2 separate regions of the Homo sapiens genome follow, and region 1 is linked to region 2. The links come from fine-mapping of genetic effects on gene expression. Tissue or cell type: whole blood. Region 2 holds a variant in brackets; the other region holds the start of a gene. All regions are shown on one strand. Distances are from middle to middle. Region 1 holds the start of MTCH1 (mitochondrial carrier 1). Region 2 has its middle 9.5 kb from the start of PI16.

Evidence for each region. PIP is the estimated chance that this variant, and not a neighbour inherited with it, causes the effect.
Region 1: it holds the start of MTCH1, and the variant in region 2 is fine-mapped to the expression of MTCH1 in whole blood (INTERVAL, PIP 0.93).

The regions. Positions count from the first base shown.
Region 1 is chr6:36,982,119-36,990,446 of GRCh38, reverse strand. It overlaps MTCH1 (mitochondrial carrier 1), which reads left to right and starts at 4,251. Exons shown (of 12, transcript NM_001271641.2): 1 at 4,251-4,594. The coding sequence starts at 4,274. RefSeq lists enhancers at 3,647-3,856, 3,975-4,697 and a silencer at 3,947-4,536.
Region 2 is chr6:36,941,057-36,949,384 of GRCh38, reverse strand. It overlaps a transcript of PI16 not described here. Among named protein-coding and RNA genes, the nearest start is that of PI16, 9.5 kb to the left of the region's middle. The variant C/A (reference allele first, on the strand shown) is at 4,335.

The DNA.
Region 1 (8,328 bases), 41 kb before region 2:
AGGTGGAGGTTGCAGTGAGCTGAGATCTTGCCACTGCACTCCAGGCTGGGCAACAGAGTAAGACTTTCATAAATAAATACATACATACATACATACATAATTGTTCAGTATAATCCTATGTTGTCATTGTTTTCTTTTTATTTATTTATTTATTGCTTTTTAGATGGAGTTTTGCTCTTGTTGCCCAGGCTGGAGAGCAATGGCATGATCTTGGCTCACCGCAACCTCTGCCTCCCGGGTTCAAGCGATCCTCCTGCCTCAGCCTTCCGAGTAGCTGGGATTACAGGCATGCGCCACCATGCCCGGCTAATTTTGTATTTTTAGTAGAGACGGGGTTTCTCCATGTTGGTCCAGCGCTGGTCTCAAACTCCTGACCTCAGGTGATCCAGCCACCTCGGCCTCCCAAAGTGCTGGGATTACAGGCGTGAGCCACCACGCCCAGCCTTGTTGTTTTCTTTTTAAGAGGGTGGGGAGAGGCAGAGGCAAGTGGAATTGGAACCAGGACCTAAAGTCGGCTCCTTTTGCAGCTTGGCTTCTGGGTGGGGTTGATGTCTGAGGGTGGGACCCCAGGGATCCAAGACAGAAGAAAAGCCAGTGTTTCCACTCCCACCTCGCCCTCACCCCAGACAAGCAGGTGATCAGAGGCAGCAACCGGAACTAGTTCTCACCCAAAACTAGTAAACAGGAATCCTACATCGAAATGAGCCCATCTTCTTTACACCAAGGTTGATTCTCCTTACACCTTGTGCACCTTCCCTGGAGCTATGGTTTAAATGTTCCTGCCAAAACTCAAGTTGAAATTTAACTGTCAATGTAATGGTATTAACGATGGGAACTTTAAGAGGAGATTAATGCTCCTATCTCAGGAGTGGATTAGTGATCTCAAGAATGGGCTTCAGAAAAAAGGACAAGTTCAGCCCCCGTTTGATCTCTCTGTCTAGTGTGCTCACTCCGCCTTCCACCTTCTGCCATGGGATGACCCTCCCCAGACGCTGATGCCACGTTTTTGGACTTCTCTGCCTCCAGAACTGTGAGAAATAAGTTTCTTTTTTTATAACTTACCCAGTCTGTAGTATTCTGTTAACAGCAGAAAACATCAGGTGAGGCCAGAACTCTGATGCCGCCCTTGACATCACCTTAGTTCCCTCCTGACTGGATCAGTATGATGTCAAATTAATTGCAATGGTGGGTACTTACTAATTTGCATTTACTTTTCATTACAACATATCCCACAGGATTCCAGGGACCTGGGATGGTCTGTATTCTTGGCAGTTCTCAAGATCTACGAGTCTTATTTCCTGTTAACTTTTTTCCTTTTGCTTGATCCTATCGGGCACATGGATCTTCCTAAAGTTTTGATTCTGTAATTAGTGCTACCATAAAAAACTGTACAATTTTGGAGAGTGTTTTTGCTCAGTCATTCATTTTCTAGTAATATTTGTTGTGTTCCTATCATGTGCCAGGCATTGAGCCAGGCTTGGGGTTCAACTATGAATAGAACAGTCCTGGCTGTCAAAGAGCTTACAGTCTAACAAGGGAGACTGACAAGAAAACAGGCAGTCACAGTGCAGTGTGGTCAGCACTGCATATGTGAGGTGGCATATGCAGAGGGTGGTGGCACCGAAGTGGGGGGCACTACCCAAGCCCAGAGCTTACAGCCTTTTTTTTTTTTTTTTGAGATGGAGTTTCACTCTTATCGTCCAGGCTGGAGTGCAGTGGCGTGATCTCGTCTCACTGCAACCTGTGCCTCCTGGGTTCAACTGATTCTCCTGCCTCAGCCTCCCGAGTAGCTGGGACTGCAGGCATGCGCCACCATGCCCAGCTAATTTTTGTATTTTTAGTAGAGACGGGGTTTCACCATGTTGGCCAGGCTGGTCTCGACCTCAGGTGATCCACCCGCCTCGGCCTCCCAAAGTGCTGAGATTACAGGTGTGAGCCACCGCGCCTGGCCAGAGCTAACTCCTTTATAGCTCTAAAGGTTTATTGCCAGGTTGCTCAGTAGCTTGACTGCTGAGGAAGATTTTCTTTCATTCAATCATTTCAGTGAGTATACTTTTCATTTCTAGATGTTCTGTTTGGCACCTTTTCAAATACACCTGTTTTTTTTTTTCCTTTACAATTCCTGTTCTTTTTACTAGTACTTCCTATTATTTATCTTTGCCTTCATTTGAAACCTACTTCTTTCCTTTTAATTTTCTTTGAGATGGTTCTATTATCTCAAGTTCTTCCTGTTTTGCCCATTCTCTCTCATGATGGCACGTTTCTTTGAGCGGCTCATACATTTTTTATTGTGAGGATTCTTTTTTTCTTCCTCTTGGAGTCTCTGTGAGCCCTGAGTTGTAGAAATACAGCTATTGTGCAGTTTAACATTTGCTTCTGCTTGGTACCCTACGGGTCTAACTGGTTTAGCTGATCTATTTTTCCTTCAATTTCTTCACTTGGAGAAATTGTTCGATCATTTAGAAATACTTTACTGAACATGTACTATGTGCATAGTCCTATATCTGATGTTGTGGAAGATACAAAACAATGCAAGACAACACAAAGTTGCTGCTTCACATGAAACTACAGTTTGAAAGGGCCAAATACAGTATAGGCCCAAAGTTAGGTGACCATGTAAGGCAGAGTAAAAGGCTCAACGGTGAACAGCCAAGTTCAGAAAGAAAAACAGACAGTTGGAGAAAAATGGGGACGAAAAGCCCAAAGAAGGAAAAGGTTCCTGTGAGGAAGTTTCAGAAGGATGGGGAAGTAAATCATCCTCCCCTACCCCCACCCCCCACCCCCAAACTAAAACCTATCGCCTCTTCTGGGTAGAGAGTTAGTGTGGCACTAGGAACTTGACTTTGAGGTCCTTATTGAGAAAGCTAAATCAGAACCTAGGCAAAAGGAAGTCATTTAAGGTGCTCCTGGGGGATGTTTGATGAAAATTGTGTTTGATGGAGAAAACACAGCAAGTTGAAAGGGTTAGCAGGCTTTGCAAGTGATTTCACTAGGACAAGCCTGGGTTAGGGAGGCCAAGGTGAGGGAGAGAGGGAGTGTGGCATGCTTTGAACGTGGAAAGTACATAGTGTTCATTATCAGGAGTGGGAAGAGGGGAGGTAGCTTTTTAGGGGGTAAGGCAGGAAGGGAGTTAGAAAGGACAGACTGGGAAACCCGGACTAACAGTGGCAGGTGTCGATCTAAAGAAATTTCTCACAATGAACTGGCTATAGACTAAGTACAGACAAAGGGACCAGGTCTTCCATTGCTGTGTCCCTGCACACTCTAGGATCCGTTCAAACAGAAACTTTTATTGCGAACCCCCAAAACTAGCACGGTTCTGTTGTAGGTGTTGTTGCAGAGTGTCGGGCACGTTTACAAACAGGAACAGGGCACTTGCTGTCCTATCTTCCTCGCAGGGTTCTTGTGACGATTACACTTAAATCAACACGTATAAAGCATTTTAAAAAGTGCCTGTCACATAGTCCCTGCAATTTAAGGTCTAGTTGTGATTATTCACTTGTATTAACTAAGAATCAACTACAGGCGCCTAGCAGTGCCTGCATGTGCTCACACTGAGGCACTCACTAAAACCCTCAGGATCTAGTGAGGGAGACAGTCAAATACTTTAGAGCAAAACAAATTTTACAACCACGGACTCTGAGGAAGGCGTGCGAAGGCTCCACAGCTGGGGAGGGTGCCCACAGTCGCCGAGGGGACATCTGGATTTGCTCTGGTTGGGAGAGCATTCCTGGCAGAGGAGATGGAAAATGCGATCGGACAAAGAGGCTGGGACCGCGGAGGGGATCGGGCTCGGGGTCGGGGCTCGTCCTGCAGCAGGAGATTCAGCTCGCGCAGAGTTCCACGCAGGCCGCGGCGACTGGGATCTGGGCCGCAAAGGGGCGGGCAGAGAACTGCAGAGAAAACTCCCGAAGCCAGGGAGGTGGCTTGGAAGCGCCTCAGACCATATTGGGGACGTCTGGCAGCCAGAGGCGCCGAACCCCGCCCCCGCGTGCTCTGGGCATCCCGGGGGAGCGCCCCGGCCTGCGGCTGCCGCCACAGCTCCCGAGCCCGGGGCCCCGGCTGCCCGCCACCATTGACCCCCGGCCCGCAGCCCAGTGTCCTGCTAGGCCTCCAACCGGCCGGGGAGCCACATCCGGCGTGTCCCACCCGCCGCACCACGCTCCCGAGCTCCCCCGCGGCCTGGAGTGGTGCGCCCCGGCCCCGCCCCCTGACGCCGGTGAGGGGGCGTGGCCCCGTCACGTGACGGGGAGTGACCTCGCCGCCGGGCGCCATGGGAGCTTCGGACCCGGAAGTGGCGCCCTGGGCTCGCGGCGGTGCCGCGGGGATGGCGGGAGCCGGAGCTGGAGCCGGAGCTCGCGGCGGAGCGGCGGCGGGGGTCGAGGCTCGAGCTCGCGATCCACCGCCCGCGCACCGCGCACATCCTCGCCACCCTCGGCCTGCGGCTCAGCCCTCGGCCCGCAGGATGGATGGCGGGTCAGGGGGCCTGGGGTCTGGGGACAACGCCCCGACCACTGAGGCTCTTTTCGTGGCACTGGGCGCGGGCGTGACGGCGCTCAGCCATCCCCTGCTCTACGTGAAGCTGCTCATCCAGGTGGGGGACCAGAGGCGCCGTAGGGAGATGGGAGGCTGATGTGAAGGTGACAGGCCAGGATTTGGAGGATTGGGGCGGGCAGTCAATGGCGACGGATTTGGGGAGAGGGGTGGGGACGGCGGGTTTGGGGGGCCGAGTGGGTGGGATGGGAGGGAAGCCGTGAGGGAGTTGGGAACGCAGGGGTCACGGGTTTTAGGATACAGAAAGGAGACCAAGGGGTTAGAGTAATAACAGATACGGGAGAGGGTGGAAGGAACAAGCGATTTGGGGGAGTGCCAAGGAGGGAGCGATGGGCTGGAAAAACATATTTGGGAGATAAAGGAGTGGGGACGATGGACTTGGGATAGGGAAGGGAGCGAATTTGGGGCGAGGGAAGAAGCAATAGAATTGGGGGAGGGGCAAGAAGTTTGGGTGAAGAGATGGGGAGGAAGGTTGGGGGCCCAGGCAAAGTGTTTAGAGAATGAGGAGCACATAATTGGGGTAGAGGGGAACGGAGGCTCTGGATTTGATAGAGATGGATTTAAAACGTCTTGGGGTGGGGACAAAGTGGGCGCCAGGGCCAGAAATTTAGGAGGGAAAGAAGGACACCAGACTGGGGGTGGACAGAGGAGACGGAGGTCTTGGGTTGCATTGTGATTTAATTTGGTGGGAGAGTGCGAAGGCAAAGACTTTTGCAGGGGAATGCTATCGGTTTACCGGAGATGGGGGCTCTGGATTTGATGGCGACGACGGATTTGGTAGGAGGAGGGGACAGGGTGACGCGTATGGGGGGAGGGGAACAGATAGGGCCAGCATTGGGGGAGGGGAGTGGCAGCGATTTGTCTAGAGAGGGGAGCTAGGAGGAGGCTTTAAGCGGGGAAGGGGGATGACGCATTTGGAGGAGGAAATGGAAGTCATAGTTGGGGTCAGAGAGAGGAATCACAGTGCTTGTATCTGGGCAGATGAGGAGAAGGGGCACGGGAGTATTGAAATTGGGCAGAAGGGACAGTGGAGACATAGGTGGCAGGATAGGTAGGGACTACCAGAAATTGAGACCGAGGTAGGGATGTCTCTGGAACAGAGGGATGCATAGGCACTTGGCAGATTTGGTGGTGGCCAGCAATGCGGTACAGATGAAGTGTGCTGCTTGAGGAGTGAGCTGGAATGAAGGGCGTGTGGAGGTGTGAGAATTAGGTGGGTGTGGCTGGGATGGGTACAGTTTTGATGGGGGTCATTAGGCCAGAATTTTCCAGTTAAGAAGCTTGGGGGGAGGAAGGTAAAAATTGAATTGGAGACCCATCCAAGATTTGAGTTGAGGCAGGTGGGTGTCAGATTTTACCATCTTTATAATTGAACCGAGAGAATGCAAAATACAACTGGAATGAGAAGGCCTTGAGAATGAGAGTAATTGAAATCTGGGATCCGAGGAATGGTAATAGATTTGTGGGTGTGACCAGGAATATGACAAGGAATGAGGAGATTCAGTCAGGGGCATCAAGGTGCCTGACTAGACCCTAATTGTGACAGATTTGAAAATTGTTGATGGCGGAAGGTGTAGACCAGACTGGCATTTGGTTGTGATTTGGGAATGAGGGCTGTCTTACAGGGTTAAGATTGTATTTACAGCAGTTGAACTTGAAGTTTGGGAGATAAATTGGTGCTTTGGACCTGAGAAGTGAGGGTTCTGGAAACTGATGGAATGAGACTGAGTGAGGGCTAGGATTTTAGGGCACAGGTGGGAGAGTCTGTGGAGTGAAGGATACTGGAGCACAAGGGCTCAGTGTGAGGGAAATGAAGAAGTGGCTTCATCATTTGGATGATGGCAGATCTGGTTTGAAAGAACATTGAAATGAGGGTGGTTTGGGAAGGGAATGGGGGAATGAAGGACACCAAAGCGTGAGAAGAACTAGATGGTGGGCAGGTAAGGATGGATGAGCCCTGTTGAAGGACCAGAGGTGCCTGTCTGATTTGAACCCAGCTGGTGTTGAGTGTAACATATATTAGGGTAAGATCTTCAATGGGTATAGTTTGGGAATCAGAGTAATAACTTGCAGAAAGGCAAATTACTGGGAGTGGGGGTGTCAGGAGTGGAGTGACAGATTTGGGGATTGTCTAGATTAGGTGCGTAAGAATGCAGTGCCTTAGATTAGTGCATGTGGCTGTCAGGTTTGGGAGTCGGAGATTTTAAGATGACAGACTGTCCCTGCTGGTATCTGATATAGGGCCACAGCATTTGCCGTAGTTAGGACTGGGTTAACAGATTTGAGGTTGAAATTGGGTTTAATGACTTGGGAACAAATAATTAAAACTTGAAGGCAGGAGGAATGGGGGTGAGATACAGCCAGTGTGCCTATGATAACCCAATAGAAGTTAAGAAAATAGATTCAACAGATTTGGGAGCCATGGGGATATGGGATAACGTTACAAATTTAAGTATGAAATTGGGGTCAGTGGGACTCCCAAATAGTGTTGACTAAACTGGATAAGGACAGCAAAAGAGCAGTTGTGGCGATTTGGAGTGGAGGAATAAAGGAATACCACCTGTATTTAAGAGAACACAGATCAAGACAAAACTTAATTCAGAACAACCTTGGAGCTTTTAACCCAGAAGGGAAAAGGTCTAGAAGGGAAGTACTCACTGCCTGGGTCAGCTGACTCACCCCTTTCCTCCTTTGCTCCACTGGGTCAAAATTTTTTTCTTTTAAAGACAGTCCCCATCATAGAGGAGTTTTTAAATTTACAATCATTAATCTGTTAGGCATCTCAGAATCAGATCCATAGGAGATAGCCTGAACTTTGAAAAGCACTTGCTTGATAAAGGCAAAAGGGGACAGGGTTGATCCCAAAAAGCACTGGAAGCATACCTAATCCAGTTTACAAGGTAGCGCTTTCTAACTTGCCACTTCTACTGCCTCCCACAGCTGCAGGCCAAATCCTCTCCCACATGTCAGAGGAATCGCTCTGGTCCATGGGCCCAGCTGGCCTGCTTAGAGGGCACAGGGCTGGTATCCTGGCCCCTTGCCAAGGGAGGAAGGAGCCTTCTCACTCCCCACCTAGGTGCTGGTCTCCTTGACACCTTGCCTCCTCCCTGGCAGCAGGGGCTCTCACCCCTCGACAGAGACTTCCTGCTCCTCACATGGATATGGATGGTCCTTCACCCACCCGCGGGTTTAATAAATATTTCAGGCTGGGCGCAGTGGCTCATGCCTGTAATCCCAGCACTTTGGGAGGCCGAGGCGGGTGGATCACCTGAGGTCGGGAGTTCGAGACCAGCCTGACCAACATGGAGAAACCCCGTCTCTACTAAAAATACAAAAAATTTGCCGGGTATGGTGGCGGGTGCTTGTATTCCCAGCTACTTGGGAGGCTGGGGTAGGAGAATCACTTGAACCCGGGAGGTGGAGGAGGTGGAGGTTGCGGTGAGCTGAGAGCACGCCATTGCACTCCATCCTGGGCAACAAGAGTGAAACTCCATCTCAAAAAAAAAAATAAATAAATAAATATTTCAGATATAAGAAGCATCTGTACAGCAAGAACTATCATAGCCCTACAGAAATGAGGGGGTCGTTTTGTCACAGGGATGTAGGGTGATTGAGGTGAGAACGCAGCTAAGGATATGTTTGAGGAGTAGCTGGAATTTGAGGTAACAGTTTGCTAAGCCTGGGAATGGGAGGAATAGACATGGAGGTGTCTGCAGTAGATTTGGTAAGAAATTTGAGTTTGGGGTGCACTTTGGAATAGATGACTTAATGGCT
Region 2 (8,328 bases):
TTTAGGAGGCCAAGGTGGGCGGATCACCTGAGGTCAGGAATTGGAAACCAGCCTGGCCAACATGACGAAACCCCATCTTCACAAAAAATACAAAAATTAGCCAGGTGTGGTGGTGTGTGCCTGTAGGCCCAGTTACTTGGCAGGCTGAGGCAGGAGAATCACTTGAACCCGGGAGGCGGAGGTTGCAGAGATCACGCCACTGCATTCCAGCCTGGGCGACAGAGCAAGACTCCAGTGAGAAGAAAGAAAGAGAGGAAGAGAGAGAGAGAGAAGAGAGGAGAGAGAGAAAAAGAAAATAAGGCTGGGTGCGGTGGCTCACACCTGTAATCCCAGTACTTTGGGGGTGGATCACGAGGTCAAGAGATTGAGACCATCCTGGCCAACCAACATGGTGAAACCCTGTCTCTACTAAAAATCCAAAAATTAGCTGGGCGTAGTGGCACACGCCTGTAGTCCCAGCTACTTGGGAGGCTGAGGCAGAATAATCGCTTGAACCCAGGAGGCGGAGGTTGCAGTGAGCCGAGATCGCGCCACTGCACTCCAGCCCGGGTGACAGAGTGAGACTCTGTTTCAAAAACAAAAACAAAAACAAAAAAGGAAAGAAAGAAAGGGAAGGGAGGGTGGGAAGGGAGAGAAGGAAGGGAAGGAAGGGGAGAGAGAGAGAGCGAGAGAGAAAGGGAGACAGTAAGGAAAGGAGGGAGGAAGGAGGGAGGGAGGAAGGAGGGAAGGAGGGAGGGAGGAAGGAGGGAAGGAGGAAGGAAGGAAAAAAAAAAAGAAAGAAACACAGAGCTGGGCGTGGTGGCTCAGGCTTGTAATCCCAGCACTTTGGAAGGTGGAGGTGGGCGATTGCTTGAGCCCAGAACTTTGAGACCAGCCTAGGCAACAAAGTGAGACCCTTTCTCTATTTCTAAAAACTTTTAAAACATTAAAATGAATAAAATAAAATAAAAACAGACTTCCCAAGGAATTAAAGTGCTGACCTGGCCTGGGAAGTGCTGGACTCAGGAATGGAAGGACACAGTTCTCAGATGCCCCCCGGGTGGAACCAGGCACTGGCACTACAGGTTGCCCTGGTGTGGTCATCTCTGTGGCCTCTGCCTCCAGTCATGCCCCTTCAATAGCAAGGAAAACAGCTCCGTAGATGCAGGACAATGGGCAGCATTCATTCACTCAACAAAGGCTTACAGAGCCTCTCATTGTGCCAGGCGCTGAGCTGGGTGAACAACAGCAGGAAACCAACCAGCAACCACAGGCAGTGTTGTGGATGAGAGTGTGGGGCTTACCGGCTGGGTGGCCTGGGGCAGGTGATTTCTCTGCTCACTGGCCTGTTTCCACATCTGTACACTGGGGCTTAGAACAGAACCTACCTCCTAGGATGGTTGTGAGCATTAAATGAGTTAGTACATGGGTAGGGCCTGTGATCATCCCTGGAACATAGTAAGTGCTCATTGAGTTAGCCAGTATTCACATACAGCAGGTCCTTGAATAACGTCATTTCATTCCATGTCTTTTTGTCATGACATTGGTAAGAGAAAAATTCGATTCCTGCAGGGGCCACTGTCTGCGTGGTGTTTGCATTCTCCCCACGTCTGCGTGGGTTTTCTCCCATGTCCCAAAGCTGTGCACGCTAGGCTCATTGGTGAGTCTGCATGGTCCCAGCACGAGTGAGTGTGGGTGTGTGAGCACCATGTCCTGTCCAGGGTAGGTTCCCACCTGGCATCCTGAGCTGCCAGGATGGGCTCCAGCCACCCACGACCCTGAACTGGAATAATTGGGTAAATAATTATCTTGTTTTTCTTTCTTTCTTCTTTCTTTCTCTTTCTTTCTTTTTTCTTTCTCTCTCTCTCTCTCTCTCTTTCTTTCTTTCTTTCGAGAGAGTGTCTCGCTCTGTCACCCAGGCTGGAGTGCAGTGGCACAATCTCAGCTCACTGCAACCGCCACCTCCTGGGTTCAAGTGATTCTTGTGCCTCAGCCTCCTGAGTAGCTGGATTACAGGTGCCCACCACCACAGTCAGCTAACTTTTGTATTTTTAGTAGAGATGAGGTTTCACCAAGATGGCCAGGCCGGTCTCGAACTCCTGACCTCAGGTGATCCACCCACCTGGGCCTTGCAAAGTGCTGGGATTACAGGCGTAAGCCAGTGCACCTGGCCTAATTATCTTGTTTTTCTTAATTTTTCTTAAATGTATGTATAGCTTACATTCATTTCAGTGTTTAATATTAGAAGTGTTTTGATCTTTAGAAGTTTGGTGATGTTTTTGTCACCAGAAATATGTCACAGGAATTCTATTCATTTATATCAATTAGCCTATGGTAAAATTGGTTTTGTTTCCCTTAAAGTTGCAGTTTCCAAGAGTCTATCAGCAACTTAAGTGAGAACTTACTGTATTTGTTATTATATATCTTCCACCTGTTATATATAACAGGTGGAAAAGTTTGCATAGCCTGAGGCTATAGCAAAGAAAAAAAATACAGCAACCTGACTTGGCTTTTACCCTGGGGAGGACTGCCTTGGCCTGGGAGAGCTCCTAGGTAGAAAGGGAGGACACACCCCTCTCTGAGGGACAGGGGCACTGGTTGAGTGTTGCCAGGATGTGGGCTGGGGAGGCCTCCTGGGAAGGGCATTTGGTTGGAAGCAGAGACACCTGGCTTGCCTGAGAGGGTTGGGTGAGATGGGAATGAAGACTGGGAGGCTGACCAGAGCCAGCCAGCGCATGTGGGGACCCAGGTGTGCAGACAGAGTCCACTCTGCGTGTGCACACTTATACGTGGTTCACAGAGCTTCTCCCATTTGAGTGACCTCACCCACTCCTCACAGGATAGCTCTCCAAGGTGAGTCTCACTGTCACCCCGCATAAGGAGACTGATGCTCAGAAAGGTAAGTGATTTCCCCAGTATAGGTCGGGGAGGGTCTGGAATAGTGACAAAGTGGTGGGACCAGAGCCAGGGACCTGCCACTAGGAAAAGAGGGCAGTTAAGGCAAGCACATGGAGGAGAGAGAGGAATGGAAGAGGTGAAGTTAGGGGAGGGTGAGAGGGAGAAAGAGAAGGCAGCATCAGAGTAGACGGTGTGTTTTATCCATAAACCCAGACTTGGGGAAAATAGATTTTCTTCTGTATTATTATTTCTGTATATTTTAAATCAAGTTTTATTTTGAACAGCAGTATAACTCCATAACAAAAAAATAAGCCAAAAAGGAAAAAAAAATAATTCCATCTCTGGCATTTGCTTCTCGTCTGAGCAGGTGGTCCACAGCCACTCAAAGTGTGGTCCACGGCCCGGTGCTGGTCTGCCAGAGATTCGCCACTGTTTTTCAGCACAACAGGCCCAGAAAATGAGAGTAAATGTTTAGAAACTCTTACAGCAATTGGACATGGTTGTTTTCTGCCTGTTGAATCTATGATTTAAAAGTTGGGCTTGTATTTCATGTATCTGCTTTTCATTTCATTTTTATTATTTATTTATTTTATTATTTTTTTTTGAGACCAAGTCTCGCTCTGTCACCCAGGCTAGAGTGCAGTGTCACAATCTCTGCTCACTGCAACCTCTGCCTCCCCGGTTCAAGCAATTCTCCTGCCTCAGCCTCCCGAGTAGCTAGGATTACAGGGGTGTAACACCACGCCCAGCTAATTTTTGTATTTTTAGTAGAGACGGGGTTTCACCATGTTGGCTAGTCTGTTCTCGAACTCCTGACCTCAGGTGATCTGCACCTGCACCGTCTTAGCCTCCCAAAGAGCTGGGATTACAGGCATGAGCCACCAAGCCTGGCCTGATAACTTTTTATTTTGAAATAATAATAGACTCACAGGAAATCACGAAAAAAGTACGTAAAATCCCATGAGCTGTTTACCCAGATTCTTCCAATGATGACATCTTATATAACAATAATACAATACCCAAACCAGGAAATGGACATTCATTTTCCTAATAGGTAATGATTTTGAACATCTTTTCCTGTGTTTTCTGCAACCCACATATCCTCTTTGGTGGACTGTCTGTTCGTGTCTTCTAGTTCTATTTGGATTTTTTTTCTGTTGAGTTTTGAGAGTTCTTTATGTATTTTAGATACAAGTCCTTTGATGGATATACATTTAATCATTTATTTTTACGATATTTTACAAAACTTTACATTTGGGATGGATTGGAAATTTTATAAAATCAAACTGGTCAATCACCACTGACAGTTTGAGAAGCAATCTTAGCATCTTCTTGCCTTAATGAAACAACCGCACCTGCACCATATTGAGTCCTGACTTTTTTCCCCAGATAATTTATTATAAATAATTTCTCCAACTTGCTCCATATCTTTATAACCACCACTTACAAGGTTTGCA[C/A]ACCTTCCATAGAGCAGCTGTACTGAGATTTACTCAGCCAATTCCCAAGGTTAGACATGACGTTATCACCCATTTCAGGGTCTTAGAGAAACTCTGAGTCACTCACCTTTGGTCACAAGGCTTTCTCAAACATTTTGGATAGAATGTTCTTAGTTTCCATTCTCACCATTATAGTTCAACTTGCTCTTTCATTAGAATTTAGGCATCAAGGTCAGACCAGATTGCTGGTTGGCCACATTCTGTGTTCTCATGGAAACAAAAGATCAGCGGCACTGAATCCAAACCACCCGAGCAACCCGGCTTTTCCAGTCCCAGATGCTTGATGGCACGGCAACAGTGGAGTCACTAAGAAATTTTACTTTAGTTCTATCACAGCAAACTCCAAACCAGGGGTAGCAGTCATCTGAAAAATGCAGAGACTATTTTAAAGGACAGACAAGTGCCTCAGATAGCATCAGAGAACAATGCCTAAGGTGCATGGATGGAAGCCAGTCTGCACAAAATGCTGAAAATAGGTCGTTCTGAGCAAGGGGGTCATGGAGAAGAAAGTACCAGCCCTCCATTCCTTACGCCCACTAGGCAGGTGCCTCTTCCCCTGCACCCAGGCTGACCCCTCACCTGGAAACTGACCCCTTCTCGGGTTTTCACACCTGTCTTGGACTTCCCCTTCTCCCTCCCTCCTTCCCTTTTTCTTTCTTTATTTTCTTTCTCTTTCTTTCTTTCCTTTTTTTTTTTTTTTTTTTTTTGAGATGGAGTCTCACTCTGTCACCAGGCTGCAGTGCAGTGGTGTGATCTTGGCCCACTGCAACCTCCACCTCCCGGGTTCAAGCGATTCTCCTGCCTCAGCCTCCCGAGTAGCTAGGACTACAGGCGCACATGACCATGTCCAGCTAATTTTTGTATTTTTAGTGACAGACAGGATTTCACCATGTTGGCCAGGATGGCCTCTATCTCTTGACCTCGTGATCCGCACGCCTCGGCCTCCCAAAGTGCTGGGATTACAGGCGTGAGCCACTGCGCCTGGCTCTTCTCTTTCTTTTCTTTTCCTTCCTTCCTTCCTTCCTCTTTTCTTTCTTTCTTTCTTTTTCTTTTTTTTTTTTGAGACAGAGTCTCGCTCTGTCGCCCAGGCCGGAGTGCAGGGGCGCGATCTTGGCTCCTGCAACCTCCACCTCCTGGGTTCACGCCATTCTCCTGCCTCAGCCTCTCCGAGTAGCTGGGACTACAGGCGCCAGCCACCACACCCGGCTAATTTTTTGTATTTTTAGTAGAGACGGGGTTTCACTGTGGTCTCAATCTCCTGACCTTGTGATCTGCCTGCCTCAGCCTCCCAAAGTGCTGGGATTACAGGCGTGAGCCACCGCTCCCGGCCCTTCCTTCCTTCTTTCTCTCTTTCTCTTTCTTCTTTTCCTTCCTTCCTTTCATTCTTTCCTTCTTTTTCTCCTCTTTCTCTCTCTCACTGTTTCCTTCTTTCTGTTTTCTTTTTCTCTCTTTTTTCTTTCTCTCTCTTTCTTTGGTTTGTTCTTTTTTTTTTTTTTTATTCCTGAGATGCATCCAAATTGGTATCTTTATTCTTTTCCCTTGCTATACAGTATTGCATTGTGTGACTATACTACATTCTTTAAAATTTCTTGTTGATTATACCTTTCTTCTTTAGTGCTGAAGCCAGTTCTGAATGATTACACTTTTATAAAAATTCTTGTGCAGCTCTTACTACACAAGGGCAAGAGTCTCTAGGGTATTTATCTAAATGCACAAAAGCAGAATTGTGCGGGGATAAGAGGTTATGGGCACCTTCAACTTACTAGGTGATGCGTGTTTTTCCAAATCGCACCCCTAGCCAGGAGTGTGTGAAGTGAGTTCTCATTGCTCCATATCCTTAGCAACACTTGTTATTGCCATTTTTTCTAACTTCTGATGACCTGGTGGTTACAAAATGATTGAATTGTAAATTTCAGTGATTTGTTTCTAGGCATACCTTTAGTAACTTTAAATATTTTTTTCAAAGTCTTTCTCTCTAGTTTTAAACAGTTCTCTTTATTTTTAAATTGTCCTAGGCTTACTTTTATATTGTTTTTTTAGATTTTGTTTTATCTGAAATTCTTGGTTTTAGCCATCCTATTGTGTCTATTAATTCTCATACTAGAGGATATCCTTTTGTGTTTTATAATTTTTTATTGCCTGCTTATTTCGGTGGTATTGTATCTGATAGAATCCTCTGTAGCCAAAGGTGCTATGTGGTTTGTGTTTCATTTTGTTTTTGAGACGAGATTTCACTCTGTTACCCAGGCTAGAGTACAGGGGTGTGATCATGGCTCACTGCAGCCTTCAACTCCTGGGCTCAGCCTCCCAGTTAGGCAGGATTAGAGACATTCATCATTATGCCCAGCTAATTTTTTAAAAAAAAATTATAGAGATGGGGTTTTGCTATGTTGCCCAGGCTGGTCTTGAACTTCTGGGCTCAAGTTACCCTCCTGCCTCAGCCTCCCAAAGTGTGGGATTACAGGCATGAGTCACCATGCTGGGACTAGTGCTATGTTCTTTCTCTAGGGTGTTTTTTCTTTTTCTTTTTTTTCTTTTTTTAATTGATCATTCTTGGGTGTTTCTCGCAGAGGGGGATTTGGCAGGGTCATAGGACAATAGTGGAGGGAAGGTCAGCAGATAAACAAGTGAACAAAGGTCTCTGGTTTTCCTAGGCAGAGGACCCTGGGGTCTTCCGCAGTGTTTGTGTCCCTGGGTACTTGAGATTAGGGAGTGGTGATGACTCTTAACGAGCATGCTGCCTTCAAGCATCTGTTTAACAAAGCACATCTTGCACCGCCCTTAATCCATTTAACCCTGAGTGGACACAGCACATGTTTCAGAGAGCACCGGGTTGGGGGTAAGGTCATAGATCAACAGCATCCCAAGGCAGAAGAATTTTTCTTAGTACAGAACAAAATGGAGTCTCCCATGTCTACTTCTTTCTACACAGACACAGTAACAACCTGATCTCTCTTTCTTTTCCCCACATTTCCCCCTTTTCTATTCGACAAAACCACCATTGTCATCATGGCCCGTTCTCAATGAGCTGTTGGGTACACCTCCCAGAAGGGGTGGCGGCGGGGCAGAGGGGCTCCTCACTTCCCAGAAGGGGCGGCCGGGCAGAGGCGCCCCCCACCTCCCGGATGGGGCGGCGGCCGGGCGGAGGCGCCCCCCACCTCCCGGACGGGGCGGCTGGCCGGGCGGTGGCTGCCCCCCACCTCCCTCCCGGACGGGGCGGCTGGCCGGGCGGAGACGCTCCTCACTTCCCAGACGGGGCGGCTGCCGGGCGGAGGGGCTCCTCACTTCTCAGACGGGGCGGCTGCCGGGCAGAGACGCTCCTCACCTCCCAGACGGGGTCGTGGCTGGGCAGAGGCGCTCCTCACATCCCAGACTGGGCGGCGGGGCAGAGGCGCTCCCCACATCTCAGACAATGGGCGGCCGGGCAGAGACGCTCCTCACTTCCTAGACGGGATGGCGGCTGGGAAGAGGCGCTCCTCACTTCCCAGACTGGGCAGCCAGGCAGAGGGGCTCCTCACATCCCAGACGATGGGTGGCCAGGCAGAGATGCTCCTCACTTCCCAGACGGGGTGGCAGCCGGGCAGAGGCTGCAATCTCGGCACTTTGGGGGGCCAAGGCAGGCAGCTGGGAAGTGGAGGTTGTAGCGAGCTGAGATCACGCCACTGCACTCCAGCCTGGGCAACATTGAGCACTGAGTGAATGAGACTCCATCTGCAATCCCGGCACCTCGGGAGGCCGAGGCTGGCAGATCACTCGCGGTTAGGAGCTGGAGACTAGCCCGGCCAACACAGTGAAACCCCGTCTCCACCAAAGAAATACTAAAACCAGTCAGGCGTGGCGGCGCGCGCCTGCAATTGCAGGCACTCGGCAGGCTGAGGCAGGAGAATCAGGCAGGGAGGTTGCAGTGAGCAGAGATGGCGGCAGTACAGTCCAGCTTCGGCTCGGCATCAGAGGG